Homo sapiens: one gene and its partners. The protein of the gene in region 1 purifies or fractionates together with the protein of each later gene. This does not show direct contact. Each region holds a gene or a part of one and is shown in the gene's direction. Other genes may lie near its edges. The genes, in order: HADHA, SDC4, NRXN3, KPNB1, AGRN, GPC4 and NRP1.

Region 1 (4,451 bases):
TATTGTGAGAGTCCATGCTTTTCCCCCATCTAAATTTGGTGTATTCTTACTTTAAAAATCTTGTAGCCAGGCTGGGCACTGTGGCTCACACCTATAATCCCAACACTGGATGGCCGAGGCAGGAGGATCACTTCAGCCCAGGAGTTTGAGACCACCCTGGGCAACATAGCAAGACCTTGTCTCTATAAAAAATAAAAAATAGTTGGGTATGGTGATGTTCACCTGTAGTGCTAGCTACTCTGAAGGCTGAGGTGGAAAGATCACTTAAGCCTAGGAATTCAAGGTTACAGTGAGCTATGATTGCACCACTGCACTCCAGCCTGGGCCACAGAGCAAGACCTTGTCTCTCTAAAAAACAACAACAACAAACTTATAGCCAGAGGCTTAGATGTAATAAGACCTAGATGGAAGCAGTTGACAACTATCACAAATTAAGGTAAATAAGAGCCATTCCCCTTTACTAGAGTAAATTTTAGCACTCACTAACCAATGATTCAAGCTTAAGATATTTTTTCAGAATTTTCTTAGGTTGGACATTTTTCCTGAACACAAAAGTAATATATGTCAATGGTAGAAAATTTTTCAACTATAAAAAATTATAAAGAAGAAAATAATAAACATTCATAATTCAAACCTAAAGATAACCACATCTTTTTCTTGGTATCTTCCATGGGATAATCACATTTAATTCAGTTTCAATGAATAATATTTACAAAACTAAGATCATACTATATGGTTTTTTTTGAAGATAGGGTCTCATTCTGTTGCCTAGGCTGGAGTGCAGTGGCACAGTCACAGGTTAGTGCAGCTTCAGCCTCCCCAGGCTCAGGTGATCCTCCCACCTAAGCCTCCTGAGTAGCTGGGACTATAGGCGTGTGCTGTCAGGCCCGGCTAATTTTTGTATTTTCTGTAGAGGCAAGGTTCCATTATGTTGCCCAGGCTGGTCTCGAACTCCTGAACTCAAGTGATCCGCCCACCTTGGCCTCCCAAAGTGCAGGGATTACAGGGATGAGCCACCATGCCTGGCCTATATGTCTTATTTGTATTTCATTTTTTTCTTAACATTATGCAGATTTTTTCCATGCCAATAAATGTTTGTAGACCTATTTGTTTATAGCCTACATATGATTCAAACTCTGAGGATGACCCTGAGTTTCTCCTTTGAGAAGACCTATTTTTAAAGGAAGGGGTGCTTGTAGTGGGCCAAAGCTGCCTGAATAGAAAGCTACTGACTTGCTGGGAGAATGATATTTCTTACTCTCTTCTAACAGTATATTTCTGCCGGATAAGTATATTTCTTATAATCAAAATAGCATTTGATGGTGGTACGTACATCCAGTGCTTCAAATTTAAACCCTTACCTGTATATATTTCCCTTTGGCAGGTAAATACACTGAGTAAAGAGCTACATTCAGAGTTCTCAGAAGTTATGAATGAAATCTGGGCTAGTGATCAAATCAGAAGTGCCGTCCTTATCTCATCAAAGCCAGGCTGCTTTATTGCAGGTGCTGATATCAAGTAAGTTTTAGGAAACTTGAAGTCACCTTTTATCTTGGTTAATAGTGTGTTTCTTAGGCCTAATAATTTCTCCTTTTAAAAGAAAGTAGAAGTGCTGGGCACAGTGACACAGGCCTGTAAAATTGAAAATGTACGTATCAGGCTGGGTGTGGTGGTTCTTGCCTGTAATCCCAGCACTTTGGGAGGCCGAGGCAGGTGGATCACATGAGGCCAAGAGCTCAAGACCAGCCTGGCCAACATGGTGAAACCCTGTCTCCACTAAAAATACAAAAATTAGGCATGGTGGCACACGCTTGTAATCTCAGCTACTCAGGAGGCTGTGGCACGAAAATCCCTTGAACCTGGGAGGCAGAGGTTGCAGTGAGCCGAGATCACACCACTGCACTCCAGCCTGGGTGACAGAGTGAGACTGTCTTAAAAAAAAAAAGTATATACACACACACACACACACACACACACACACACACACACACAGAGTATATATATATATATATACACACACACACACACACACATCATGTGATCTAGAGAAATCTCACCCCTTGTTTATAAGAACCAGTGTACAAGGATGTTTGGTCCTGTGTAGTGTGAAATAATGAAGAATTTAAAACCAAATGTCAGTCAGTAGGAAAATGGGTAAGTAAAATGTGGACTATTCACACAATAGAATACTACAAAACAGGTAAAAGGAATTAACTAGATCCACAATATGATGTTAGAACTCAAAAACATAAGGTTAAGTTAAAAGAAAAGCAAATTGCAGAATGTTTCATACAGTATATAGTTTCTATAAATGTTTTAAAACCAAACATGGAATAATTCTTGATACTATTTATGGACACAATCGTAGTTGGTCTGGAAGGAGACACTACAAACATGAAGATGGCTGCTTTGGGGAAATGAAGTGGGTGGTAGGACTTGATTGTTAAAGGCAGCTTTACAGATGCAGCTAGTATTTTCTTTTCCTCTGCTAAATGGTGGAATGCATGCCTACATTAACTTATTTACAATTGTTTACACATACATAAGGAGGGGAAATGATATTTTAGTGTCAGTTTAATAGGTTAAAATGTTAAGTTGTCAATTCCATTAAAATATGGGTATTTGTTATGTTCTTTGTATTTTAGACAATGATAGCCAGCATTGTAGGTTTAGTAATTTGTACTGAAAGTGTAATTATTTATGTGTAGTAATCAGTCTCTTGTTAGGCACAAATAATTCAGCTAGAAGAAAAACCACTTGATAAGATAATTTTGGGTCTTCTAAAAAATTAACATTAAACAGAACATTTATAAAGTCTAACAAGACACTGATGTACCTGGCAGTAGCTACCTATATCCAGAGGAAAATACATGTAGCTTCTATGAGGCCAGCTGAGCAACTCTCAGTGTATAAAATTACAGAATATACTAGTTATCCTTGGTCAAAAGTACAAAATCCATATCCTAAGTGTGTTCACAAAATAGCAAATGAAACAAACTGAAATTAAAGGACATTGAGTGGAACATCATTGCACCTGATCATTTTTATTTACTTATTTATTTTTGAGACGGAGTCTCCCTCTGCTGTCCAGGCTGGAGTACAGTGGTGCGATCTCGGCCCACTGCAACCTCCACCTCCCAGGTTCCAGTGATTCTCTCGCCTCAGCCTCCCGAGTAGCCAGGACTACAGGAATGCAGCACCACGCCCAGCTAATTTTTGTATTTTTAGTAGAGACGCGGTTTCACCATGTTGACCAGCCTGGTCTCGAACTCCTGACCTCAGGTGATCCACCTGCCTTGGCCTCTCAAAGTGCTGGGATTACAGGCATGAGCCACCATGCCTGGCCTACCTGGTCATTTTTATTCATTAGTGGGATCTGTTAAAATGTTTTAGATTTCTCTAAACAACCTGGAAGCTTTTCTTTTGCGTCATTTTTATTGCTGTTAACTACCTGATAGTGAAATGTTTAATCTGATAGTGAAGTAATTTACCAAAGATGATTTTCCCTTGTACCAAGCTTTGTAATTTAATGATTTATTACAGAAGTAAAAATAAATTATGCAACACATTTATGTTTTCTGGATCCAGAATTTTTTTTTTTTTTTTTGAGACAGAGTCTCACTCTGTCGCCCAGGCTGGAGTGCAGTGGCGCGATCTCGGCTCACTGCAAGCTCCACCTCCCGGTTTCACACTGTTCTCCTGCCTCAGCCTCCCAAGTAGCTGGGACTACAGGCGCCCGCCACTATGCCCAGCTAATTTTTTGTATTTTTAGTAGAGACGGGGTTTCACCGTGTTAGCCGGGATGGTCTCATGGATCCAGAAGTTTAACACTCTTTATGGAGAAATGATGTTGCTGCTATTGTGCTATTTGAAGCAAAATCATTCTTAACCTTCTATTTGAAGATTTGTCATCAAATATTGATGCATGATAGGATAAGTGTATAGTGAATAAGTATTGAACCAAATAAATTATAGTTTTATCTTTTTCTCTGTTCTCTACTTTTATGGATAATGCAGCATGTTAGCCGCTTGCAAGACCCTTCAAGAAGTAACACAGCTATCACAAGAAGCACAGAGAATAGTTGAGAAACTTGAAAAGTCCACAAAGCCTATTGTGGCTGCCATCAATGGATCCTGCCTGGGAGGAGGACTTGAGGTATAGATATTCTAAAGTTATTGAGACACTGTCCAACTCATTGGTGGCATTCATCAGCTGTAAACCCTTAGGCTACTGCTTTGCCTGGAAAAAGTTTCTGGAGGAGAATCCGCTTTGTTTTTTGTTTTTTGCTTTGAGACGGAATTTTGCTCTTGTCTCCCAGGCTGGAGAGCAATGGCACGATCTTGGCTCACTGCAACCTCTGCCTCCTGGCTTCAAACAATTCTCCTGCTTCAGCCTCCCCAGTAGCTGGGATTACAGGTGTGCATCACCATGCCCAGCTAATTTTTGTATT
Region 2 (4,451 bases), on another chromosome or scaffold:
CACTCCAGCCTGGGTGACAGAGTGAGACCCTGTCTCAAAACAAAAAAGGAAAAGTAGCAGCTTAGAAGTGGGGATGGGGTGGGAGGGGGCATGAGTGGGCAGAGATGTAGTTGGGAAACCAAGAACAAGTCCCTGCTTCAGTGGGGGTGGGGGCGGGTGAAGGGCCCAAGGCCTCTAGGCCAGACAGCTAATAAGTGTCCCTCCTATGTGCAGAGAGGTGTTAATGATTGCAAGTTTTAGCTTTGCAAGTTTTAGCTTTGGAGTCACATGGTCCTGAGTTCAAGCCTCCATCCTGTGTGAACTGAGCTTCAGTTTTCTAATCTGTAAAATGGGAATAATAAAGATAGTACATCAGTGTTGTGGGGACTGAACTGACTTAAAGCTTTTGGCACCTACCAAGCACTCAGTACGTGTGTGTTTGGTTTAAAAAAAAAATAAATTTTATGGCCGGGCACGGTGGCTCATGCCTGTAATCCCAGCACTTTGGGAGGCCAAGGCAGGCAGATCACGAGGTCAGGAGTTTGAGACCAGCCTGGCCAACATGGTGAAACCCCGTCTCTACTAAAAATACAAAAATTAGCCAGGTGTGGTGTCGAGTGCCTGTAATCCCAGCTACTTGGGAGGCTGAGGCAGGAGAATTGCTTGAACCCGGGAGGCAGAGGTTGCAGTGAGCTGAGATCACGCCATTGCACTCCAGCCTGGTGACAGAGCAAGACTCTGTCTTGAAAAAAAATAAAAATAAAAAAATAAATTTCATTATGTGCATACAACATGATATTATGGGATACATATAGATAGTAAAAATGTTACTACAGTGGAGTTAAGTAATATATCCATCATCTCACATAGTCGCCCAGGAAATGTTTTAATATTGCAGTTAGAGTTTTCTTTCTCAAAAGTTAATTCCCTGGGGATCTTGTTAAAATGTAGATTTTGGCCGGGCGCGGTGGCTTACACCTGTAATTGAAGCACTGTGGGAGGCCAAGGCAGGCGGATCACAAGGTCAAGAGATCGAGACCATCCTGGCCAACCAACATGGTGAAACCCCGTCTCTACTAAAAATACAAAAATCAGCTGGGTGTCATGGTGCACCCCTGTAGTCCCAGCTACTCGGGGGGCTGAGGCAGGAGAATCGCTTGAACCCAGGAGGCAGAGGTTGCAGTGAGCCGAGATGGCACCACGGTACTCCAGCCCAGGCGACAGAGAGAGACTCTGTCTCAAAAAAAAAAAAGTAGATTTTGATTCAGTCAGCCCTGAAATTCTACATTTCTTCTTCTTTTTTTTTTAACCAATGAATTATTTTTACTCTTTTTAAATAAGTGAAATATTAGCTTTAATGTTTTCTGATCATGACAATATTTTTAGATAAGAACATTTTAAACATTCAACAGTAAGAGACTATTGAAAATAAATGAAATTCATTGAATAGAAGTAATTAAAATAATAATGTAACTCTTTAAGCATTGTAATGGAAAGATGTTAATGATATATTGTTACGAGCCCATTATTGGGAAAAATGTATTTAGGAATACGTATGGAGGGAATTTATTTATTTATTTTTTTGAGACGGAGTCTTGTTCTGTCGCCCAGGCTGGAGTGCGGTGGTACCATCTTGGCCCACTGCAACCTCTGCCAACCGGGTTCAAGTGATTCTCCTGCCTCAGCCTCCCAAGTAGCTGGGATTACAGGCGCGTGCCATCACCCGTGGATAATTTTTGTATTTTCAGCAGAGACGGGGTTTCACTATGTTGGCCAGGCTGGTCTCGATCTCCTGACCTCAAGTGATCTGCCCGCCTTGGCCTCCCAAAATGCTGGGATTACAGGCGTGAGCCACCGCGCCTGGCCTTGAAATTCTACATTTCTAACCAGCTCTCAGGTGTTGCTATTGGTTTTTGGATCCACACTTTGCAGAGCAAGGGTTTAGAGCTGATGAAGCCTCTGCCCAGCTGCCAGCTCACACATTCCTGTGAAAGAGCCAGGGGGTGGGTCTGAGGAGCCCCATTTTACAGATGAGATGACTGAAGTAGGGGTGGGGAAGCTCGCTTGCTGGACATTGAGCATTTGGAAGCTGGTTGTAAGGTGGAGCTCCCACCAGTCCTGGCTGAAGGGGTCATTTTCCTGGGGTAATGGACCTCACTCACACAGCTATTCTGACCTTACAGATGACTTGGAAGACTCCATGATCGGCCCTGAAGTTGTCCATCCCTTGGTAAGTAGCTACATGCTTCTGCCTCTTCCACTTTGCTCCTCTATAGCAGACCTATTGGGAGAGGCAGAAAATACAGCCCCCATAGGCAGAATAAGTGAGGGGTCTTACCCCACTATGCGGGAAGGCTTTTTAAAAATCTGGCCCTGGGGTGGGCATGGTGGCTCAGGCCTGTAATCCCAGCACTTTGGGAGGCTTGAGGTCAGGAGTTCAAGACCAGCCTGGGCAACACGATGAAACCTGTCTCTACATAAAATACAAAAATTAGCCAGGTGTGGTGGCATGTGCCTGTAGTCCCAGCTACTTGAGAGGCTGAGGTGGGAGAATGGCTTAAGTCCAGGAGGCAGAGGTTGCAGTGAGCCAAGATTGTGCCAGTGCACTCCAGCCTGGGTGACAGAGCCAGACTGTGTTAAAACAAACAAACAAACAAACAAATCTGGCCCCAGGCTCATTTTGTAGGTTGCTGGTAGGCCATCCTCCCTGCAGGGATAGTCACCGTCAACACCAACTCCTTTTCTCTACATTTATAGCTATTTCCTAGCATTGATAGAAAAGTATATATATAGGCCGGGCACAGTGGCTAATGCCTGTAATCCCAGCACTTTGGGAGGCTAAGACGGGCAGATCACCTGAGGTCAGGAGTTCGAGACCAGCCTGGCCAACATGGTGAAACCCTATCTCTACTAAAAATACAAAAAATTAGCCTGGCACAGTGGCGTGCGCCTGTAGTCCCAGCTACTTGATTGGGAGGCTGAGGTAGGAGGATCGCTTGAACCTGAGAGGCAGAGATTGCAGTGGGCAGAGATTGCACCATTGCACCCCAGCCTGGGCGACAGAGACTCCCTCTCAAAAAAAAAAAAAAAAAGTATATATATATAATTCTATGAACTGCGTTTTTCACTTAGACTGGTCATGAGTATTTCCCTGCATAATTTAATGCTCTTGTCATTTTTATAGGCTGCGTAATAGTTTACCTGATTCCCTTTATTGACGGAAAAATGGCTTATAATTTGTTAACATTTTAAAATTATAACACTGCAGCAAACATCTTTTTTATTTTTGCAAAGCAATAACAAGTTTATTAAGAAAGTAAAGGAATAAAAGAATGGCTACTCCATAGGTAGAGCAGTGGCATTGGCTGCTGGTTGCCCATTTTTATGGTTATTTCTTGATTATATGTTAAGCAAGGGGTAGATTATTCATGAGTTTTCCAACAAAGGGGTGGGCAATTCCCAGAACTAGGGGCTCCTCCCCTTTTTAGACCATATAGAGTAACTTCCTGACTTTGCCAGGGCATTTGTAAATTGCCATGGCACTGATGGGAGTGTCTCTTAGCATGCTAATGTAGTATAATTAGCATATAATGAGCAGTGAGACCAACAGTTTCATTGCCATCCTGTTTTTGGTGGTTTTTGGCAAGCTTCTTTATTGCAACCTGTTTTATCAGCAAGGTCTTTATGACCTGTATCTTGTGCAGACCTCCTATCTCATTCTGTTACGTAGGATGCTTAACTTACTGGGAATGCGGCCCAGCAGGTCTCAGCCTTATTTTACCCAGCCCCTATTCAAGATGTAGGCACTCTGGTTCAAACACCTGACATTTTCCCCCTCCCTTTTGTAAGAAAACCCTTAATCCTAAGGGTTGCAGAGGGACAAAGATCCATCTTCTATAACTTCTTCATGCTGAATAGGGTGATGATATTCCTGCTTAACTATTAGGGCCTCTTGTATCCATGGTAGAGAGGGGTTCAGTCAGAAAGGGCCAGTATGGTGAGGGCCATTCATAACTCTTAGTTCTGACAAAAGGTGATATCCAAAGTCCTCCAATCAGTGCTGCAGTCCATTTCCTTTGATTCGGGAGTCTCCTCCGTCTCATCCCTTCTGTGGTTCTCCAGAAAGATGTTACCAGAAAGGGGTCCCGATCCAGACCCCAAGGGAGAGGGTTCTTGGATCTTGCACAAGGTAGAATTCAGGGTGAGTCCATAGAGTAAAGTGAAAGCAAGTTTATTAAGACAGTAAAGGAATAAAAGAATGGCTACTTCATAGGCAGAGGAGCTGCAGCAAGCATCTTTTACACGTAGTCTCTGAAGAGCTCCTTACAATAGAGTTTCCAGGGCAAAACTGCCACCTTAAAGGGCAAGCGATGTCTAAGGTTTTGCCAAATTGCTTCCAGAGTGGTTGCTCTAGAATAACCAGTGGCCAGCAGTGCAGGAGAGCACCTGCTTCCCTGTTCCCTTGGGTGCAT
Region 3 (4,451 bases), on another chromosome or scaffold:
TGTATCCCTGCTGAACTCCATGTCTGTAAAATGGGGCTAATGCTACCTATTTCATTTGCTTATTGTGTATGATATAAAACAGTGTTTGCAAAGTACCTGGCACATGGTAGGCTCTTTTCTTATATTGTTCCGGCTCTCAGCTTGCTTTACTCCTGGTATTGCTCCTGTGTGTCTCTGTATTAAAGATCATGGAGGAATATAAGTATATTTTTTTCCTGAGAGACTTTGTCTTAACTTTGAGATTCTGTCCTCAGCTGTTTTACTGTCTGGTCTCCTAAGCATGAGTCACGTGTCCAAACAGCAGTCTTTACAAGCCCATGGGTGGGATAGTAAGACCAGCTTGTCACTGTTTGTGACTCTGCTTCTGTACCTCCCAGTCTGTGTGACATCTTCCCCCATGGGGAGCCGTTTCTACTTTGTCTTTAATTGCTCCTCACCGAGGCGACTTGTCAGCCAAGGCTGCTTTCTGTCATTTGATGCCACATCTCTTCCTATTTCAGCCAGCCATTTGGGGACATTCATTTAGTTGACAGTCTGATTTTACAGAGAACATTGTACCAGACAATAATTTGCCTTGTAAGGGGGTCCAGCAGGGTTTCCTGCCTCCATGCTGACCCAGGGTGCCAGTACACTTCTGCGTGGCTGTGGCTGTGGTTCTGCACAGAGCAGGTGGGGAAGGTGAAGATATTAACAATGGAGAGTCCCAGTTGAGCATCACTGGGCTACAAGTCCCTTGCCCTCCTGTCCTTTTCCTCTTGGTAGATAAACCTTCACAGAACCTCAATTCAGGACCCTATCCATTTCCAACAGAACCCCAACACCATGGGAGATGAAGATATAGGATTATTTCTTCCTAGGTTTGTGTGCCGGTTTAGAATTGTCTGTGTCCTACTATGTCTAACATCCCACTTGATCTTGACAACAGCCCTGTGAGCTGGGAAAGAGGGACAGTTTGTGGAACAGATATCGAGGCTCTTACCTTTGGAATAAATAAAATGGGACTCAGAAGGGTTATTCAGCTGTCAGTGAGAGTGGTGTTGGCTTTTTATTCACAACAGTGAAAACTCCATATAAATAGACAGGTAATTTCAGGGCCATGGAGTAGATAGAGCACTCACCCTCAAAGAGCCTTTGAGAGAAGTCTGGTTATCTCTGTCTGGCCAGTTTCTGGCCCTTGCTTCTCTTACCTATGTCTTCAGAAATCTTCATTCCGGCTATTCACCTTCTCTCCCAGTCTCAGTTAGGTACCCTTCTCACAGAAGAGTTCCTCTTCACTGCTCTTGTATCTTGTTAAAAGGCTTTTTTTTCCCTCCTTTTTATTCTGTCCCCAGCCTGCTGTAGCAATGCCTGATCTCTCTTTCTATTTATTGTTCCATGGAGCCAAACCTCCTTCTGTCCCTTTGGGATGACCTATTGTTATACATTAATAATTAACCTTTACTAGGAACTCTAGTCACAGGCATTTAACCCAAATGCAGAAAAAGCCAAAGTTTGTTTATGACAAAGAGTTCTCACATGCTAAGGTATAATAGTGAAGGTTAGAAAGGAGAAGCTGACACTCATTAAACTTTTATGATTTCTTTTCTGGTTTACTCACTTGAGTGATTGCCTGAGGATCCTGCAATATTTCCCTTTGCACATGGTCAGCCCAGTTTAGCTAAAATGAAAAATTCAGCTTTTGAATTGTGAAGTTGAGCATGCATGACTTTCCATGTAATGTTAAAGATAAGCCTCACAGGTGCTGCTAGTGGGGCCTGGTTCTGAGCATATGGACCCTGGGGCCCAAATGCCTAGGTTCAAGTCCTGCTCTGCCACTTATCAGCTGTGTGCCTGTGGGCCGGTTCCCTAACTGCTCTCTGTGTCTGTTTCTGCATCTGTAAAATAAGGCAATGATTACAGGTATCTCAAATGGGTGTTGTCTGTATCTAATGGGATGGAGAGGTGTTAAATCCTTACCATGGTGCCTGGTGGTAGGTGCTTAATAAGTGTTAGTATCATTATTTTCAATGTTATTGACTATGGTTAGGTCCACGGTCAAGGTTACATAATAGTGAGTCATTTTCAATGCTTCGCCATAGTTATATATCACTCTTGTAATATCCATTAGAATGCAAACAGCTTTGCTTGATTCTCTCCTGGTGATGAGAGATGGGAACTAATTCTACATTTAAATATTGGGGATTATATGATATGTGCTGGAGTGACCCATCCAATTAACTTTGTCTCACAGATATGGACAGATGAGGCTTATTTTAGAAATTAGCCATTGTTGTTTTGGAGATGATAATGCAACCTTTTCAGGGCTGTGGAAATAGCGAAATGAGATTAACAATAACCCTCCAAATAGCTGCGACTTTTGTGCCCTTATGATATTGCATTCCTAAGTGCTTCACATGTTTTAAATCATTTTATTATTACAAAATAAATAGTTTGTTTATTCCTATGTTCCCAATTTCAGGAGAGGAAACAGACTCAGAAAATTTACTTTGCCAAAGTCACATAGCTTGTAAGTAGTAAATGTGGAATTCAAACCTAAATCTGGGTCCTGACTTAGAATTTGAATAAGGTAATATAAAGAAAATAGGAAAATAGTTGGGACGCTCAATACTCAGATCCTTGTCTATTTCCCTTCCATTGTTTTCTGCTTATTAAGTTTTTATGGATACGACATTGCTCAGAGATCAGAGCGCCAAAAACCATTCCAGGGTACTGTATCAAATTTCAGTTCAAATAAGAGTAAAACTTTTTTGAAATTCTAATTTCATGGAGAAAGATTAATTTCTGCTTTTAGATGGATTATACCTGGTTTAGAAAGTCATAACAGATTTTTTTCCCATAGGTTATTGGGGTTCAGGTGGTGTTTGGTTACATGAATAAGTTCTTAAGTGGTTATTTGTGCGATTTTGGTGCACTCATCACCCAAGCAGTATACACTGCACCCTATTTGTAGTCTTTTATTCCTCACCCTCATCACACCCTTCCCCTCAAGTCCCCAAAGTCCATGTATCATTCTTATGCCTTTGCGTCTTCATAGCTTAGCTCCCACATATCAGTGAGAACATACAATGTTCGGTTTTCCATTCCTGAGTTACTTCACTTAGAATAATAGTTTCCAGTCTTATCCAGGTCACTGCAAATGCCATTAATTCATTCCTTTTTATGGCTGAGTAGTATTCATATATATATATCACATTTTCTTGATCCACTTGTTGATTGATGAACGTTTGGGTTGGTTCCACAATTTTGCAATTGGAAATTGTGCTGCTATACACATGCCTGTGCAAGTATCTTTTTCTTATAATGACTTCTTTTCCTCTGGGTAGATACCCAGTAGTGGGATTGCTGGATCAAATGGTAGTTCTACTTTTAGTTCTTTAAGGGATCTCCACACTGTTTTCCATAGTGGCTGTTAGACAGTCATAACAGATTTTTTTAACTGCCATCCTCACGTTCTCCACCTACCTACCCACTCTGCAGGACAGTGGCCATGGCTTTGCAGAAGTGTACACTAACCTTGGGTAGGGCATGGAGGCAGAAAGCTCTGCTGGACCCCCTTGCAAGGTGAATTAGTATCTGGTTCAGTATTCTTTGTAAAATCAGACTCTCAACTAAATCAATGTCCTTGACTGACTGGCTGAAATAGGGCTTCAGGGTGTCTCATTCTACCACTGTACAGAGGGCACATGCAATGTGCAAAAAATAAAAACAAAAACAGACCTCTGTCCCCACCAGCTTTTAACACTTACTCTTTTCTTTCAAGTAATATATCCACATGGTTGAAAAAAAGTCTAACACTGTAAGAGGGCACAGTGAAAAGTAAGTCACCCTCCCACTCCAGAATATTAATCCCGCAAATATACTCCCCAATGACAATTTTATAGTTCCAAAGAGACTTTATGCTTACTGGAGCATATATACATATAATGCCCCCACGCCCCCACACTTTTACACAATGATAACATAATGCACCCTCTATCCTGTTCCTTGACAATTTCACTTAACAATGTGACCTGGAGAGCTTCCACATCAAAACCAAAAGCAATACCTTGTTTGCAAGGCCTGCCTAATATTCCATTATAACGCTGTGCCATCTGCTATTGATGGTCATTTAGGTTGTTTCTGGTATTTTACTAAGGGTGCTTCAGTAAATCACTTTGTATGAAGTATGTGAATCCATGCAACTCGATCTCTCTTGATTTTTATTTGCAAGCTTATGTTGTATAACTTTCTGACAACACAAGAAATTGGCCAGGAGACAAAAGAAATTCTGTAGAAATATAGAGGCTTTTTTGGAGCTTGTGTGCACATCAGATGTTTCTTCAGATACCTTTTTGGTTCCTGTGTCTCATTGTTTCTCATGTTGTTTTGGGCTATGTCCTGAAGCCTCTTTTTGGGTCATTTTTCCAGGTGCCCAGTGAGTGATGGATGGATACTGTTTGCAAGATTGATTC
Region 4 (4,451 bases), on another chromosome or scaffold:
ACAAAAACTAGCCGGGCATGGTGGCAGGCACCTGTAATCCCAGCTACTTGCTGGGGGGAGCTAAGGCAGGAGAATCGCTTGAACCCAGAAGGCGGAGGTTGCAGTGAGCCGAGATCGCGCCATCATGCTCCAGCCTGGGGGACACGAGCGAGACTTTGTCTCAAAAAAAAAAAGAATTCTGAGACAGCTGCCTGGGCACAGTGGCTCACACCTGTAATCCTAGCACTTTGGGAGGCCAGGAATTTGAGACCAGCCTGGGCAACATAGGGAGACCCCCATCTCTACTAAAAACCCAAAAAAGTTAGCTGGGTGTGATGGCATGTGCCTGTAGTCTAAGCTACTCAGGGAGGCCTGGGAGGTCAAGGCTGCAGTATCGTTGTGCCATTGCACTATCGTTTTGCTACTACACTCCACCCTGGACAACTGACTGAGGCCTTGTATTTTCCTTTTTTTTTTTTTGAGCCTGGGCAATATGGTGATGCCCTGTCTCAACAAAAGATAGCTGGGCATGTCAGCATATCCACCCCTGTAGTTCAGTTACTCAGGAGCCTGAGGCGGGAGGATAGATTGCACCGTAGAGATTGAGGCTACAGTGAGCTGTGATCGTGCCACTGCACTCCAGTCCGGGCAACATAGTGAGACCCTGTCTTAAGAAAGAAAGAAAAAAAAGAATTCAGAGACACTAATATAAGTATGGTGGTGGGCAAAATGTGGTCAAATAGTGTTAGAAATTTGTATCTTTTGTCTTTTTTTTTGGTGCAGGTTTTGCAGACATTGGGTACAGAAACTTACCGGCCTAGTTCTGCCTCACAGTGTGTGGCTGGTATTGCTTGTGCAGAGATCCCAGTAAACCAGTGGCCAGAACTCATTCCTCAGCTGGTGGCCAATGTCACAAACCCCAACAGCACAGAGCACATGAAGGAGTCGACATTGGAAGCCATCGGTTATATTTGCCAAGATATAGTAAGTGCTTGCCTAATGTATCTGGTTTATATACCTCTGATTGCCTCTAGCTGTGACATCAATGATATTAGTACTACCTTATTGAATCACGAAGAAAGCCAAGCTAAATTGCACAGTTTTGAAAGTGAGACTGATTTATTTCCCTTAGGCCTGTGTCTTCACATTGCTAATCATGCCCTAAAGTAAAGAAACTTGAGGATCGCAAACTGAAAACAGAAGTCTATGTTTGAAGAGTCTTAGATTCTAGACTTACAAAATGAGGATATTCTCATTTGGATTATCCCTGACCCAGTCTTTTTTCTTAAGATCCCGAATGTACCATGAATGTTGTGGCGCATTTTCATTTACAACATTACGGAAAGTTTTGCCAACATTTGATGTAGTTGGTTTAGCCACTGGAGACACAGTATTTTAGATGTAGCCCCCCCAGCACTGTTGTTCCTGATGAGGTTACCACTCTTGGTGTGTATTTTAATATATAGACTTTATGAAGCAAAGGAGCCCACAGCACTTGACCCAGACTTAGACTCCCTAGATGTGCCTAGGTGTCGATCCTTGGCCTTGGCCCTTAAATGCCCTGAAGCTTTACTTTAGAGTACAGATGGCCTGGAAAATACGAACAGACTGCCATCTCCATTTGCACAGAAGTGGGGAGGAAAGCGAATATTACCTCATACCCAGAGTCATTATGCTAAGAAGTCAAAGATGAAGTTGATGAGTTTGACTTGGTTTTGTTCAGTTCTGGATTGCCAGTACCATGAGACATTTTGCAGGTGGTTTGCAGTGTTATTCCCAAATGGAAACGGGTGGGGAAAGATCACCAATTCATGATACTTTCTTGAGTGAACTTTACAGTTAAAAGGACTGCCAATTAAGCCAGGCACAGTGGCTTACACCTGTAGTCCCAGCTGCTTGGGAAGCTGAGGTGGGAGGATCACTTGAACCCAGGAATTTGAGGGTTCAGTGCATTGTGGTAGTGCCTGTGAATAGCCACTGCACTTTAGTCTGGGCAATACAGACCCTGTCTCTTAAGAACAGAAGAAGGACTGCTTCTGTCGTGAAGCTCCTTATGGCAGTCTTTTGGAGGGGATTGATTCCAGCACCCTCCTCAGGTACCAAAATCCTCAGATGTTCAAGTCTGTTACATAAAATGGTGTAGTATTTGCATATAACCTATGCACATCCTCCCATATACTTTAAATCATCTCTAGAATACTTACAATACCTAATTCAATGTAAATGCTATATTAATAGTTGGTATACTGTATTAAGGGAATGATGACAAGAAAAAAAGGTGTACATGCACCTTTTGGTGCAGTACAGATGCAACCATCCATTTTTTTTCCTCTAAATATTTTCAATCCATAGTTGTTTGAATCCACAGATGTGGAACCCATGGCTGCAGAGGGCTGACTGTATATTCATTGCACTTCTCTGCTTGTTACAGGACCCAGAGCAGCTACAAGATAAATCCAATGAGATTCTGACTGCCATAATCCAGGGGATGAGGAAAGAAGAGCCTAGTAATAATGTGAAGCTAGCTGCTACGAATGCACTCCTGAACTCATTGGAGTTCACCAAAGCAAACTTTGATAAAGAGGTAAGTTTTTTGACAATAAGGTATAGATTCAGACAGTAAGGGATGAAAGAGTTGAATGAAAGTTTTTTGTTTTGTTTTCTTAAGTTTATGGTTTAGAAAGTACCACCTACTTAAAAGTATTTGTTTCCAGTTTAGTCGAGTTCGTATTGTGTGAGATATCCCCATGGAGTGTTTGCCGTTTCTCATCATGCTTTTGGAAATAAAGTGTTTCTAAGCTTAGGTTTTTCCTTTTGCAGTCCAAAGTGTGGAATGTTGTTGGGTTTTTTTAAATTATAGGGCATGGTGGTGCATACTGGTACTCCAGCTACTTCAGAGGCTAAGGCGGGAGGATTGCTTGAGTCCAGTTATTCAAGGCCAGCCTGGGCAACAAAGTCAGATATCGTCCCTTAAAAAAAAGAAAGGAATAGGCTGGGCGATGTGGCTTAAGCCTGTAATCCCAGCACTTTGGGAGGCTGAGGCGGGTGGATCATCAGGTCAGGAGTTTGAGACCAGCCTGACGAACATGGTGAAACCCCATCTCTACTAAAAATACAAAAAAATTAGCCGGGTGTGGTGGCGTGCGCCTGTAATCCCAGCTACTCAGGAGGCTGAGGCAGGAGAATCACTTGAACCTGGGAGGCAGAGGTTGCAGTGAGCCGAGATTGCAGCACTGTATTCCAGCCTGGGCGACAGAGCAAGACTGTCTCAAAAAAAATAAAAAATAAAAAAAATAAAAGAAAGAAATTATGGTATGTACTATATATGTTGGTTTACTTTGGTTTCTTTTAAGATTGTGTGAATCTTTTGCCTTGTACTAAAGATTTTGTGGAGGCCGGGTGCTGGGGCTCACATCCAGTAATCCCAACACTTTGGGCCACCAAGGCAAGAGGATCACTTGAAGCCAGGAGTTTGAGACTAGCCTGTGCAACGTAACAAAACCCTGTCTCTAAAAAAATTTCTGTGGAGAAGAACAACTGAGTTGTTAACCAGTTTTGTGAGCTCTTGTGTTTACAGGGCTTATAATGGAAAAAAAATAATGAAAAATGAAATAAATAAAAATTATAGCAATTGGTCTGTTTCATACCACCTTAGGAAGGTGTTTTTAAGAAACAGGATATATAGCCAGGTGCTTTGGCACATGCCTGTAATCCCAGCTACTTGGGAAGCTGAGGTGGGAGGATCACTTGAGCCTGGGAGTTCAAGGCTCAAGATTTCACCACTGTACTTCAGCCTGGGCAACAGTGCAAGACTCTGTCTCCAAAAAAAAAAAATATATATATATGTATATGTATGTGTATGTATAATATATATGTAAACATTTTGGCTGAAAATGCAATGAATAACATAAAATTTACCATCTTAAATCATTTTTAAATGTATAGTTAGTTAAGTAGATTCACATTGCTGTGGAAACAATCTCCAGAACTTTTTCATCTTGCAAAACTGAAACTGTACATACTGAACAACAACTCCTCATTTCCCCCTTTCTCAGCCACTGGTAACGACCATTTTACTTTCAGTTTCTATGTATTTTACTACTCTAACGAAATACCTTACGTAAGTGGAATCATATTTGTCTTTTTGCGACTGGTTTGTTTTACTTAGTATGATGTCCTCGAGATTCATCTAAGGGGTAGCATTTGTCAAAATTGGCTTTTTAAGGGTGATTAATATTCCATTATATGTATATGCCACATTTTGTTTATCTAGTCTTCCATCCATGGCCATTTGGTTTGCATCCACCTTTTGGCTATTGTGGGTAATGCTGCTATGAACATGGGCATGCATGTGTATCTTTGAGACTCTGCTTTCAGTTCTTTAGGGTAAATACCGACAAGTAAAATTGCCAGGGTCATGGTCTGAAAGTATTTCTGTATATATGTTTGTTGACACTTCAGCTGGGTTTTTA
Region 5 (3,699 bases), on another chromosome or scaffold:
GGCTGGCATGGGGTGCAGGAGGCCCCGGGGGTCAGGACTGAGGCCTTGGTGACTCTCCCTACAGCCTCGGGGCAGGACGGCTCTGGGCCCTTCCTGGCTGACTTCAACGGCTTCTCCCACCTGGAGCTGAGAGGCCTGCACACCTTTGCACGGGACCTGGGGTCGGTGGGGCAGGAGCAGGGGGAAGGGCCGGCCCCCACCTCCGTCTCTCCTGTGGGGAGGGGACAGCAAAGACACCCCGACTCCCCATGACCCCAGGGAGAAGATGGCGCTGGAGGTCGTGTTCCTGGCACGAGGCCCCAGCGGCCTCCTGCTCTACAACGGGCAGAAGACGGACGGCAAGGGGGACTTCGTGTCGCTGGCACTGCGGGACCGCCGCCTGGAGTTCCGCTACGACCTGGGCAAGGGGGCAGCGGTCATCAGGTGGGCCGGCAAGGGTGGCTCTGGGAGGCCTGGGGCACTGGCCCGGGGCCGGGGCACCAGCAGGTCGCTCAGGCCCTGGGTGGTCGCGTGGCCGGTGGTGGACAGAGCCCACTCACGCTGCCCCTCCTCACCAGGAGCAGGGAGCCAGTCACCCTGGGAGCCTGGACCAGGGTCTCACTGGAGCGAAACGGCCGCAAGGGTGCCCTGCGTGTGGGCGACGGCCCCCGTGTGTTGGGGGAGTCCCCGGTGAGTGCTCTGGGCCGCGAGGGGACTCCCGCTGCTGCCTGCTCTTCCTCCTCGGGCGGCAGCCCCGCCCCTGCCGGCGCTCACGGAGCTGTTTTTCTGTCCTGTTCTCTTGGCCGCCTGCCCTGTCCTCTGCCTCCTCTGCCTCCCTGCTCTCTGCTCTCGCTCTGCAACCCCACCCGCTCTTCGGAGGCCAGAAATCCCGCAAGGTACTGTCGGCCTCTCATCCGCTCACCGTCTCTGGCGCCTCAACCCCTAGGGTAGCTCCTCCCCCACTAAGGACCCTGCCATTTCTGTGTGATTAACGCTGCCCCCTAGATAGGCAATGGGCGGGTGGGGCGGGTGCGTGCAGGTGCCTGGGCCCTGGGTCTGCACCGTGGGTGGGCTCTGCACAGCCACTTACCTGGCGTCCCCGCAGGTTCCGCACACCGTCCTCAACCTGAAGGAGCCGCTCTACGTAGGGGGCGCTCCCGACTTCAGCAAGCTGGCCCGTGCTGCTGCCGTGTCCTCTGGCTTCGACGGTGCCATCCAGCTGGTATGTGGGGGCGGGGCGTCCCAGCAGGGCCTCCGGGGCGGGCGGGGTGGCAGGCGGGACAAGGCCCTCACCCTGCCCTGCAGGTCTCCCTCGGAGGCCGCCAGCTGCTGACCCCGGAGCACGTGCTGCGGCAGGTGGACGTCACGTCCTTTGCAGGTCACCCCTGCACCCGGGCCTCAGGCCACCCCTGCCTCAATGGGGCCTCCTGCGTCCCGAGGGAGGCTGCCTATGTGTGCCTGTGTCCCGGGGGATTCTCAGGACCGCACTGCGAGAAGGGTGAGCCTGGCACAGGGCAGGGGGCGGAGGCCGGATGGGCCCGGAGCCCACGAGGCCCCACCCTCACCTGCCTATCTCACAGGGCTGGTGGAGAAGTCAGCGGGGGACGTGGATACCTTGGCCTTTGACGGGCGGACCTTTGTCGAGTACCTCAACGCTGTGACCGAGAGGTAACGTGCCATCCTCTGCTGGCTGTCGGTTCCATCTGTGCCCTCGGGGCGGGACACCGGACCCCCACACCAGGAGGGCCCAGGAGGGGACGGCCCGGTGCTGCCACCTCTGTCCTCCCGCCTCTCTCTCACCTCCCGGTCCTCCCGCCTCTCACTGTCTGTCTCTTTGTTTCCAAGCGAACTGGCCAATGAGATCCCCGTGTGAGTAGAGCTCGGCGCCCCCCGCTCCCTCTCACTCCCACTCCTCCATCCTTCCTGGTGGGGAGCAGAGTCCGGAGCCCCCGGGGAACTTTCCATCCCTTGTGGCGGAGGATGGGGGTCCGGCGCTATTTGGCTGCAAGAGGCCGTTTCCTGCCTCAGAAGTGCAGTCGCCCCTCCCAGGGCACAGGCCGAGGGTCGCCCCACAGCCAACCCCCACCACTGAGGCTGTACACACCTGTGCGCATATGCATGCATGTCTGTGTCCGTGTGCACTTCCGCGTGTGTGAACATGCAGCTGTGTCTGTGCGTGTCTATGTATATGGAGTGGATGTGCAAGTGTGTGTGAATATCCAGCTGTGTGTGTGCATGGGTCCATGTATATGTGTGTGTGTATATGTGGGGGGGACATGTAGATATGCGTGTGTGACTATGCGGCCGTGTGTGTGCATGGCTCCATGTATGTGTGTGTATATGAGGGAGACATGCAGGTATGTGTCCGTGTGTGTGTGTGTGCATATGGGTCCATGTATGTGTGTGTATATGAGGGAGACACGCAGGTGTGTGTCTGAGTGTGTGCGCACATGGGTCCATGTATGTGTGTGTATAGGTGAGGGAGACATGCATGTGTGTGTCCGTGTGTGTGCATGGGTCCATGTGTGTATAGTGTGTACACATGGGTCCATGTATGTGTGTGTATATGAGGGAGACACGCAGGTGTGTGTCCGAGTGTGTGTGCATGGGTCCATGTGTGTATAGTGTGTGCACATGGGTCCATGTATGTGTGTGTATATGAGGGAGACACGCAGGTGTGTGTCCGAGTGTGTGTCCATGGGTCCATGTATGTGTGTGTATATGTGGGGGAGACAGGTGTGTGTCCGAGTGTGTGCATGGGTCCGTGTATATGCGTGTATATATGGGGGGATATGTAGATGTGTGTGTGTATGAACAGGTGTAAGTGGGGAGCACTCAGGTGTGTCTGTGTGTGTTCGTGTACACGTGTGTATGTGTGTGAACATGGAGGGGTGTGTGTGTCCGTGTGTAGGTTTGCGTGCATGCACACATGCATGTGTGTACTGGGGCATCCAAGCCCCTGGTCTCCACTCCATACCACCCTACGCCTACCTCCTTGATCTCTGCGCCCAGCCTTGGCTGTGCTCCCCTGCTGTCTGCACGTGGGTGTCTGCACGTGGGTGTCTGCATGTGGGTGTCTGTGCCCTCAAGTGTCTCGTGTCTGCACGTGGGTGTCTGCACCCTCACGTGTCTCGTGTCCGCACAAGCATGTGTAGGTGTCCCTGCTGGGCTCTTTGGTGGGCGGCCAGTGATCCTCGAGGTCACGCATGTCTTCTGTGGGTGCCTGCTCCTTGCACCCCACAGTGTTGAGATGGGTTTGCATTGGCCCCGCCTGTCCCCTGCTCACCCGCCTCCCTCTCTTCCTGCTTCTAAGCCCCGAAACTCTGGATTCCGGGGCCCTTCACAGGTGAGCACGTGGCAGCAGTGCCTGCAGACCCCTGGCTGGCCCATCTGTCCTCCCGCCCGTCTCTCTGATCTCTCTCTGCCAGGCTGCCCCTGTCTCCATCCCTCTTCTCCCTCCCACTGTCGGTGTCTGCCCACCAGCCACCCCTGGGTCCCGTCACAGCCCTTGTGGCCTCCGCAGCTGGGGCCCTTGTCCTCCCGCCTCCCCCACCCTGTCCTGTTGCCACCTTCCTAGAGGCCCTGACCTGCCCTCTGCCCTCCAGCGAGAAGGCACTGCAGAGCAACCACTTTGAACTGAGCCTGCGCACTGAGGCCACGCAGGGGCTGGTGCTCTGGAGTGGCAAGGCCACGGAGCGGGCAGACTATGTGGCACTGGCC
Region 6 (4,451 bases), on another chromosome or scaffold:
AGAGTCCTTGACACTCTGGGCTCACTGTTCTGAGCCTGGGCAGGTCGACAAGGGTGGGGACCAAAGGCCTGGGCAGTGCTAGCATTATTGCTGTTTCTTCTAGGGGGATGAGACTTTGCAGGGGAGACCTGTTTCTTTAGGTCTCGTGACTGTTTTAAAACTCTTCCCTTTATATTAGGGCCTCATCCCACTAAAACGGATTTGCTTCCCAGATTCTGAATTCCCTTCATGTGAAATAGTGCATGGTGGTCTGACTAGTGGTTATGAGACAAAAGACAGATTTTTTTTCCTAACTTTGATATTTTATATGTCCTTTCTCTTTCCATTTTTCTTATAACTTCCTCATCTCTCTTTTCAGTTCTGGTATTATTTAGTGTTTCCCTAGCATGTTGTAGCTGAGTTGCCTGTGACCATTTTTAGTAGTTACACAACAAATCATGTACAGAGCATGAGCCAGCACTTAGCCAAATAATGAAATGGAAGAACTCTGCCAAACTCAGCATCATAATTTCCCTTAATAAAACTCTACTGTGTCATTTAGTTTGGTCTCTTTTTAAAACTTGAGCCTCCATCAGCCTATTTTAGGGGAGGGTACTACAAGGTCTGTTGCATAAATGATTTGACTTGCAATTGAACTAAGAATACAATGAACCACTTCCTAGAGTTATTTTTTAAAAGAATGAGAAAGGACTTCTTTGAAAAAAGAAGTGTTTTCTGAATATAACTATTTTGGGTCTAAAATTTTTGCTCATTTCCTAAAGTCCTGTACCACATTGGAATTGCTTTGTATTTTGTAGAACAGGTTTTGTATTCTAATATAGAAATTCTTAACTTGCCTTGTTACCTAAATTCAAATGCATTCCAGAATAATCCCTGGCACATAGTAGGTGCTCAGTAACTATTTGTTGACCCCTTAGCTTTCTACGTTTCTTCTTACGAGGGCATTGTCTCCTCTTAAGCATAATATTCAACAAATGCCACGTGCTATTCAGTGATTTTTCATTTCATAGCCACTTGCATAACTTTTACCTCTTTAAAATCTAGCCATTTTGCAGTCTCATCAATGTGGAACCCAACTAAAACTAAAGTAGGAAATAACCAGTGCCTAAGATTACAGTTTCCTGTCATCTGGCAGGGAAACGTGATACATCTGGGAAATCTTTTCATCACAAATGCTTGATAAGGTATAGTACTGGAATCCGATGTTGTGAGGTGACTGTCAGCAAGTTGCTTAATCTCTTTGGCTTTGGCTTGGTTTTTCTTATCTATCAAATGTGAGAGCAACACTCAGTGATCTCTCTGGTCCCTTCCAACTCTAAGACTTCTGTGATCCTATGCTTCTCAGGCCACCTCCCCCCTCCAGTCCTGTTTGCTCCTTTACAAAAGGAGAGGGGGACATGTAGGGAAGTCTTAACAATCTGTGACTTTAAAGGAATGAACTTTCAGCTGTCCAGCAAATCTGGCTATCCAGAAAAGGCCATTCCTCCAGGGTATATTGGTTAGCCAAAATTTTACTGTACATTAATACATAGTTAGGACTAATTTAGTGCCTAGGAAAACATTTGGGAATGGTTAAAACTGTGGAAAAATCTTAATTCTTGGTAGGGCAGTGTATACAATTACCATTTTATTGTTACACGTATTCCCCCCTTTTAGGCTAGAGCCTTGTTTGGGATGAGGGGAATGGATGTGCACATGCATCACGTAGGAGCCTGACTGTTTTTTTTCTCCTGACACCACTAATCCCCTGTTCCTGTTCCTAAGGGCACTGCTGATAAGTGATATCCAAAGTAACACTCCAGAGCAGGTGAAGTGCATTGCCGGGCTGCCCTGCATCCCAGCATCTCTTCCCTGTGGTGGTATCTGCCTCCAAAAGTCTGTGTTAGCAGAACTGGTGGGTACTTACACAGAAGAATGCACTAATCCTCTGATACTGACTCCAAAAGAGGAGGGTGGGGCAGAGAGAAAGAGGAGACAGGAACTTTTAATTAGCTGCTAGAATGCTATACCTAGCCCCAATCCTTTCTAAGCATTGAGGAAAACAAGTGACCGGATGGAATCAGCTCTTCTACACCCCAAATAATTTCACTTTATAAAACTAGATGAAATGAAGTCCCATTTCTCTGGAGAGGACAGCCAGCCCAATCTGACTTGGGTAATGTTTCTGTCTTTCTTCCTTTCCTTCCTCACAAACTTCCAGTCATAGCCCCATGTGTCCTGCCATATGGTGTCCCTGTTTGTTTGTTTCTCCTTTCTTCCTTTCTTTCTTTTTCTTTCTTCCTTTCCTTTCCTTTCCTTCTTCCTTTCTTCCTTTCTTTCTTTCTTTTGAGACAGAGTCTCACTCTGTCACACAGGCTGGAGTGTAGTGGTGAGATCTCGGCTCGCTGCAACCTCCGTCTCCCAGGTTCAAGCAATTCTTCTGCCTCAGCCTCCTGAGTAGCTGGGACTACAGGCACACACCACCATGCCCGGCTAATTTTTGTATTTTTAGTAGAAACGGGGTTTCACCATGCTGGCAAGGCTGGTCTCGAACTCCTGACCTTGTGATCCGCCCACTTCGGCCTCCCAAAATGCTGAGATTACAGGCGTGAGCCACCGTGCCTGGCAACTGGTATCCCAGTTTCTGCCTGATGTTTAAGCCCCTCTAAATTCTGGCCACACGCATACTCCTGTGCACCTGACCTTATTTCCCGCAATTCCCCAACCCCATTCTGAGATGCAGTGACATGTCCTGTACTCTCCTACAGGTTTTGTTCATTTCATTGAACTTAACTCAGGATGCTCTCCCTTTGTTTGACCACTTAAGTCCAGCCCCTTTCTCGAAAATTTAACCAAAGCCCCACCTCTTTCATCAAGTGTTCTGTGAACACTCTGTGCTTTAGTACTCCCAAGCCTTGGAAAACCTTCACACACCCCCTAAGTTTAAGATTACTCATATTCTGCCTTGTAGAATATATTAACTTTGCCTTCTGCACAGCTCTTGGCACAGAACAGAAGACACCGTAGGTACCCTTCTAAACCTTAATTTGGGGTTAGGGTTCAAAGGACAGCCTTGTAGTCAATGTAATGCAGAAGAAGATGTGCTTCTGTTCCAGTCTGGCAAAGACAAACACTGATGGTTGAGGCTATTAGCAGGACGTGCATGGTGGGCACATGAAGATAGTCTCCTCCACTGCATCTCATGGCTCACCCTGCATAGTTATTTGTAAAAGGATTTTGAGATAATTGAGCAATTTATGTGTGTGTGAGAGAGAGACTCCAGGAGGGAAGGGGGTGGGGGAGGAATGGGTGTTTACAGGGTGGGAGTTGGTGCACCTTGTTTGTTTTGGGTCATCTCCCTCCTCTCCCCTGTCCCAACATGTATCTTTTATCTAATCTATGTCTTCAGGAGGCAGTCCAGGCTTACTAATTGTGATCAATCACAACTCATTCTTAAGTTCATGGCCAAGCCTTCAGTGTCAATGTGATAGAAGCAATTTCTGTCTCTATTTTAGCCCCGCCACTACTGTCTTTTTTTCTTTTCACACATTAGGTAAACCCCACAGCCCAGTGTACCCATGCCCTGTTGAAGATGATCTACTGCTCCCACTGCCGGGGTCTCGTGACTGTGAAGCCATGTTACAACTACTGCTCAAACATCATGAGAGGCTGTTTGGCCAACCAAGGGGATCTCGATTTTGAATGGAACAATTTCATAGGTGAGCAAGTGGTTAACATATTTGTGTTGCTGGAGATAGCTTAGCTTCCAGTCACAAGGAATGTTGTAATTGGCAGCTATGAAATTTGTTTGTTTAAGTGTTTGCTATTTAGTGTTTGTCAGAATCCTGACTACGCTCAACTACTTTGAGAATAGTAAAAACATTACTGCAAGTGAATGTTCCCTCAAACTAATGGTGGCATTTCTGAAGGTAATAGATACAGTGGCTGCCAGGTTTTAATAATGAGAAAATGCCTTTTTCTTGGAGACAGAGTCTCTTTCTGTCACCTAGGCTGGAGTATAGCAGCACAATCATAGCTCTGTGTAACCTGAAACTCCTGGGTTCAAGCGATCCTCTCACCCTCAGCCCCCCAAAAGCCCTGGGATTATAGGCATGAGCCACTCACTGAGAAAGTGTCTTTTTGATATTTCCCGCCTGAAAGTCAGTTGTGTTTATGATTATAGGCTTGTATCCATGTAAATGCTGGAGTACAGTCCTCATGGAGTTGTAAAAGTGGCTTTTAAAATGTTATATCTATTACACTGCAACTAAATCTTCTGCAAACCGGCCAGATACGCATTTGTTATTTGGATCAGGTGAAATCTGATTGAGAAATTCAGGGATTCTGTTTCTGTACACCATTTAGCAGTAGTAGTCTGCTCTGGTGAGAGTGGAAGGACTTTAGCCCTGAGAATTTAAGGGATACATATTCCTGCATATATATTCCACCTAGAAAACCATTCTCAGAACCCA
Region 7 (4,451 bases), on another chromosome or scaffold:
AAAATATGACTTAGTTCGTGTCCTCAAAGAAGTTAAAATCTGGGGAGGCAGAAAGCAGCATTCCAAAGAACTAAATGTGCTCATCAGCATTTGAGGGCTGGATATGGTGGCTCAAGCCTGTGACCCCAGCACTTTGGGAGGCCAAAATGGTAAGATCTCTTGACCCCAGTAGTTTGAGAGCAGCCTGGGCAACATAGCGAGACCAAAAAAAAAAAAATTGCCAATCATGGTAGCATCCACATGTAGTCCTAGCTACTCAGGAGACTGAGGTGGGAGGATTGCTTGAGGCCAAGAGTTCAAGGCTGCAGTGAGCCATGATCACACCACTCCACTCCAGCCTGGGTGACAGAGTGAGACCCTGTCTCTAAAAATAAAAATTAAAAAAAAGGCCGGGGTGTAGAGGGGCCAGGCGCCGTGGCTCACACCTGTAATCCCAGCACTTTGGGAGGCCGAGGCAGGCATCACGAGGTCAGGAGATCGAGACCATCCTGGCTAACACTGTGAAACCCCTCTCTACTAAAAATACAAAAAATAAGCCGGGCGTGGTGGCAGGCGCCTGGAGTCCTAGCTACTCGGGAGGCTGAGGCAGGAGAATGGCGTGAACCCGGGAGGTGGAGCTTGCAGTGAGCCAAGATCGCCCCACTGCACTCCAGCCTGGGAGACAGAGCGAGACTCCTTCTCAAAAAAAAAAAAAAAGAAAGAAAGAAAGAAGGGAAATGCAGATAAAATGGTGTGAAGAGGCCCAGAAATGGAAAACTGTGTCCAGTTGCAGAGAACAGAAAAACTGAGTAAACGATGTGGCATTTGAAAACAGGTCAGGATTTTAAGCAGTTCAGATAATGGAAAAGGGTAACATGACAGGGAATTCCTTGTGGAGGGAACAGAAAGAAAGCTCCCAAACTCCCAGAAGTAAGGAAGTTCTTCATGCCAATTGGCACTGGTTAAAGGAGTGAATGGGGAGAGGCCTTGCAAGGACATGACATGGAAGGCCTGCATGCCTGACTGAAAATGACGTGCGTAATTTCTAGACAAGAAGGCACTGAATGTCTGAGTAAAGAAACGACATGATCTGGACCATAGAACTCATGTGGAAAGTATCTGAGTAATGAATTCTTAAGGTTCAGCTGATAATGTGGACTTAGTTTAATTGCATTAGATGTTTGCCTCTCACTTAGGGGTAGTTATATTTTTAGGCTAAATTTTTATTATATAACGCAGAATTGAGTTGCTTCAAAGAAAAATAGGTTATCATTCTTGCACATGTTCTTGATTAGGATGTACAGTTTCTAAAGGAAAATACTTGAAGTGTTGGACATTTTGTCATTAAGCCAGCGTTGAATTCATCAACAACTGATACTCTCCTTGTGCTCAGAAGCTCCTTGGGCTGCTTTAGAAGACATAAAAAGGTCTATGATGCTGTTCATTGCCTTTGAAGATCTTATAATCTAGCTGTGGGTACATGACTAACAATCTTAAAGCCTTAGAGAGCAGTGGAATGCTGAGCTCTGTGCTACTTACATCATATTTCTGAGAAGGGAGAGCTCAGAATAAAAGCTAGAGTAGCTTGAAAAGTTCTCTTCATGAGTCTTAAGCTGGGTTTTGAGCAAAGGCAATGATGAGGATGACGTCTAGACTGTATGAGAAGAGAATTGCTTAACTGAGATGTATTGTCAGTAATAGAAAATCAAATTAGGCAAATGGGATGAAGTCAAAATGAGGGTCTTGAATGCCAGATCGAGTTTTGATATCTTCCTATCAATAATGGAAAACCATGGTACATTTTCAAAAGATATCTCTTTTCTATTGTCGGGGTAAAATATACATAACATAAAATTTACCGCTTTAACAATTTTCAACCACTTTTAACCATTTTAATTTTATCATTGTACATTTTTAAGTGTACAATTCTGTCGCATTAAGTACAGTCACATTGCTGTGCAAGCATCACCACTATTTCCAGAATTTTATAATTGTCTCAGACTGAAACTCTGCACCCATGAAACACTAACTCTCCCAATCTCCATTTCCCCCAAGCCCTGGCAACCACCATTTTGCTTTCTGTCTCTACGAATCTGACTGATCTAGTGATAGGCTACTCCTATCCATGGAATCAGACCATATTTGTCCTTTTTTTGTTGGGCTTCTTTCACTTAGCAGTGGAGATTTTTGAGGATGAGAATGACATGCTTAAAACAACATTTTCTGAAAATTTAAGTAGCAGTTGGTGTAGTGGAGATTCAAAGTGGGGTCTGGGAGGCCAACCAAGAGCTGATGTAGCACCCTGGCCAGAGCGCTCGGATCAGGATAAATCCAGAAGAAAGGAAGGTAGCAACAAGAGTTCTGTTGCTTTCTTGTACTTAATAAAAACAACAGGATTTGGCAGCAAAACGGAAATGACGAGATGACTAGGCAGGAAGTGGATGATTGGTGATGCCACCAATTAAAAGACAGGGTTCAGTGAAAAGATGCAGTATCCAGGGGAAAGGACTGTCTTAGTCTGCTTGTGGTACATTTGAGATGACAGTGAGACATTCATGTGGAAAGTCCCCAATGCAATTAGAAATAGGGGTGGGGAGAACAGTTGTGGGGGATCATGGTCACTATTCTCCCACACTCAATTCAAATGCCACCTCCCCTGGGAGGTCCTCTATTACCTCTGCAGGCTGAGTATGCATTCGTTCTCTTTACCTCTGCATCACTGTCTCTTTACCTTTGTTTTAGCAACCTTCCTGCTATCGGATTGACTTCTATGCATATCTCCAATCCATCATAAACTATGAACTTCTCTTAAGCAGGGCCAGTACTTGATCCAGGGATGAATTCTGGATACCAAAGAGACTGAAATATGAATGTTAAACTTAGAAGATGTCAAAGCGGGGGAAATGTATGTTCTTATTGAAGATTTGCCTTACTGGGATGTGAGTTTAGAGACGGGAATTCTGACAGAGCAGGAGGAAGGTTTGAGGGAGGAAAGATTTACTGTAAAATAATCCAGAGACTGAAAATTGTATATGATTGGGTACAAAATCATGTCTTTATTCCATATGTTGTATTTTATTTCTTAGCATGGAGTCGCCCAGGAAATCATTTTACATTATCTGTTTCATTTCACTTCCCAGATTATCCTTGCTCTGGAATGTTGGGTATGGTGTCTGGACTTATTTCTGACTCCCAGATCACATCATCCAACCAAGGGGACAGAAACTGGATGCCTGAAAACATCCGCCTGGTAACCAGTCGCTCTGGCTGGGCACTTCCACCCGCACCTCATTCCTACATCAATGAGTGGCTCCAAATAGACCTGGGGGAGGAGAAGATCGTGAGGGGCATCATCATTCAGGGTGGGAAGCACCGAGAGAACAAGGTGTTCATGAGGAAGTTCAAGATCGGGTACAGCAACAACGGCTCGGACTGGAAGATGATCATGGATGACAGCAAACGCAAGGCGAAGGTGAGGGCTGGGGACTGGGAGGAGGTCATCCCTTATGTCCTTGACTTCAATCAAGGGCCTCTGGCATTCTCCCGAGGAAGGGCTTCTTATTTCCTTCCAGCCATGACATTAGAGGAGGTGTGTGATGGGGTCAGTAAGACCCTTGATTCTAGGAAGACAGGAATATGGCATGAAAAGTGATGTCTGAGATAACATGCAAAAGAATTGCATTGCTGGTCCCATTCCCTGGCTGTAGGGATGGACAGACAGCTCAACATGCAGACAGGAGACGGGGAAGCCCAAGGCTGACAGCAGCCATCCAGCCAGCGCTCAGAACCCCTTGCAGATACCACTCAGTCGTTTGGGTCTGCCCTCCCCCCATCTCAAACCTACCCCTAGTTTAAGTGCTTTGTTTCTTTTATAAATTTTTATTGTGGGCCAGGCTCAGTGGCTCATGCCTGTAATCCCAGCACTTTGGGATGCCGAGTCGGGCGGATTGTCTGAGCTCAGGAGTTCGAGACCAGACTGGACAGCACGGTGAAACCCCATCTCTACTAAAATACAAAAAATTAACAGGGTGTGGCAGCGTGTGCCTGTAGTCCTAGCTATTCTGGAGGCTGAAGCAGGAGAATTGCTTAAACCCGGGAGGCAGAGGTTGCAGTGAGCTGAGATTGCACCACTGCTCTCTAGCCTGGGTGACAGAGTGAGATTCCGTCTCAAAAAAAAAAAATTAATTGTGATAAAATACATATAATATACAATTTCCCATCTTAACCTTTTTAGTGTGCAGTTCAACAGTGTTAAGTATGTGTATATTGTGCAACCAATCTCTAGAACTTTCTCATCTTGCAAAACTGAAACTCTACACCCATTAAGCAACAACTCCCAGTCCCCCTGCCCCCAGCCTCTGGTGACCACCTCCACTTTCTGTCTGTGTGAATTCAACCATTTTAGGGACCTCATACTGTATTTGTCTTTTTGTGATTGGCTTATGTCACTTAGGATAATGTTTTCAAGGGCC

What was found.
Region 2: the proteins of HADHA (region 1) and SDC4 purify together in Homo sapiens (co-immunoprecipitation; 2 studies listed by BioGRID and IntAct, with this or other methods). This does not show direct contact.
Region 3: the proteins of HADHA (region 1) and NRXN3 purify together in Homo sapiens (affinity purification with mass spectrometry; one large-scale study listed by BioGRID and IntAct). This does not show direct contact.
Region 4: the proteins of HADHA (region 1) and KPNB1 fractionate together in Homo sapiens (co-fractionation; one large-scale study listed by BioGRID). This does not show direct contact.
Region 5: the proteins of HADHA (region 1) and AGRN purify together in Homo sapiens (co-immunoprecipitation; 2 studies listed by BioGRID and IntAct, with this or other methods). This does not show direct contact.
Region 6: the proteins of HADHA (region 1) and GPC4 purify together in Homo sapiens (co-immunoprecipitation; 2 studies listed by BioGRID and IntAct, with this or other methods). This does not show direct contact.
Region 7: the proteins of HADHA (region 1) and NRP1 purify together in Homo sapiens (co-immunoprecipitation; 2 studies listed by BioGRID and IntAct, with this or other methods). This does not show direct contact.

Annotation. Positions count from the first base shown.
Region 1 is NC_000002.12:26,233,922-26,238,372, reverse strand, and holds part of HADHA (trifunctional enzyme subunit alpha, mitochondrial precursor), read left to right. Parts: intron 1-1,384; coding exon 1,385-1,518; intron 1,519-4,017; coding exon 4,018-4,156; intron 4,157-4,451. UniProt on the Homo sapiens protein: Mitochondrial trifunctional enzyme catalyzes the last three of the four reactions of the mitochondrial beta-oxidation pathway.
Region 2 is NC_000020.11:45,330,781-45,335,231, reverse strand, and holds part of SDC4 (syndecan-4 precursor), read left to right. Parts: intron 1-2,162; coding exon 2,163-2,209; intron 2,210-4,451. UniProt on the Homo sapiens protein: Cell surface proteoglycan which regulates exosome biogenesis in concert with SDCBP and PDCD6IP.
Region 3 is NC_000014.9:78,704,737-78,709,187, forward strand, and holds part of NRXN3 (neurexin 3), read left to right. Parts: intron 1-96; exon of another isoform or gene 97-174; intron 175-4,045; exon of another isoform or gene 4,046-4,451. UniProt on the Homo sapiens protein: Neuronal cell surface protein that may be involved in cell recognition and cell adhesion. May mediate intracellular signaling. Functions as part of a trans-synaptic complex by binding to cerebellins and postsynaptic GRID1.
Region 4 is NC_000017.11:47,656,098-47,660,548, forward strand, and holds part of KPNB1 (importin subunit beta-1), read left to right. Parts: intron 1-762; coding exon 763-963; intron 964-2,410; coding exon 2,411-2,563; intron 2,564-4,451.
Region 5 is NC_000001.11:1,050,169-1,053,867, forward strand, and holds part of AGRN (agrin isoform 2 precursor), read left to right. Parts: intron 1-64; coding exon 65-161; intron 162-258; coding exon 259-423; intron 424-557; coding exon 558-669; intron 670-863; coding exon of another isoform or gene 864-875; intron 876-1,084; coding exon 1,085-1,201; intron 1,202-1,284; coding exon 1,285-1,477; intron 1,478-1,559; coding exon 1,560-1,647; intron 1,648-1,824; coding exon of another isoform or gene 1,825-1,848; intron 1,849-3,292; coding exon of another isoform or gene 3,293-3,325; intron 3,326-3,584; coding exon 3,585-3,699. UniProt on the Homo sapiens protein: Isoform 1, isoform 4 and isoform 5: neuron-specific (z+) isoforms that contain C-terminal insertions of 8-19 AA are potent activators of AChR clustering.
Region 6 is NC_000023.11:133,310,505-133,314,955, reverse strand, and holds part of GPC4 (glypican-4 precursor), read left to right. Parts: intron 1-3,532; coding exon 3,533-3,698; intron 3,699-4,451. UniProt on the Homo sapiens protein: Cell surface proteoglycan that bears heparan sulfate. May be involved in the development of kidney tubules and of the central nervous system.
Region 7 is NC_000010.11:33,212,386-33,216,836, reverse strand, and holds part of NRP1 (neuropilin-1 isoform a precursor), read left to right. Parts: intron 1-3,015; exon of another isoform or gene 3,016-3,119; coding exon 3,120-3,451; exon of another isoform or gene 3,452-3,599; intron 3,600-4,451. UniProt on the Homo sapiens protein: Cell-surface receptor involved in the development of the cardiovascular system, in angiogenesis, in the formation of certain neuronal circuits and in organogenesis outside the nervous system. Mediates the chemorepulsant activity of semaphorins.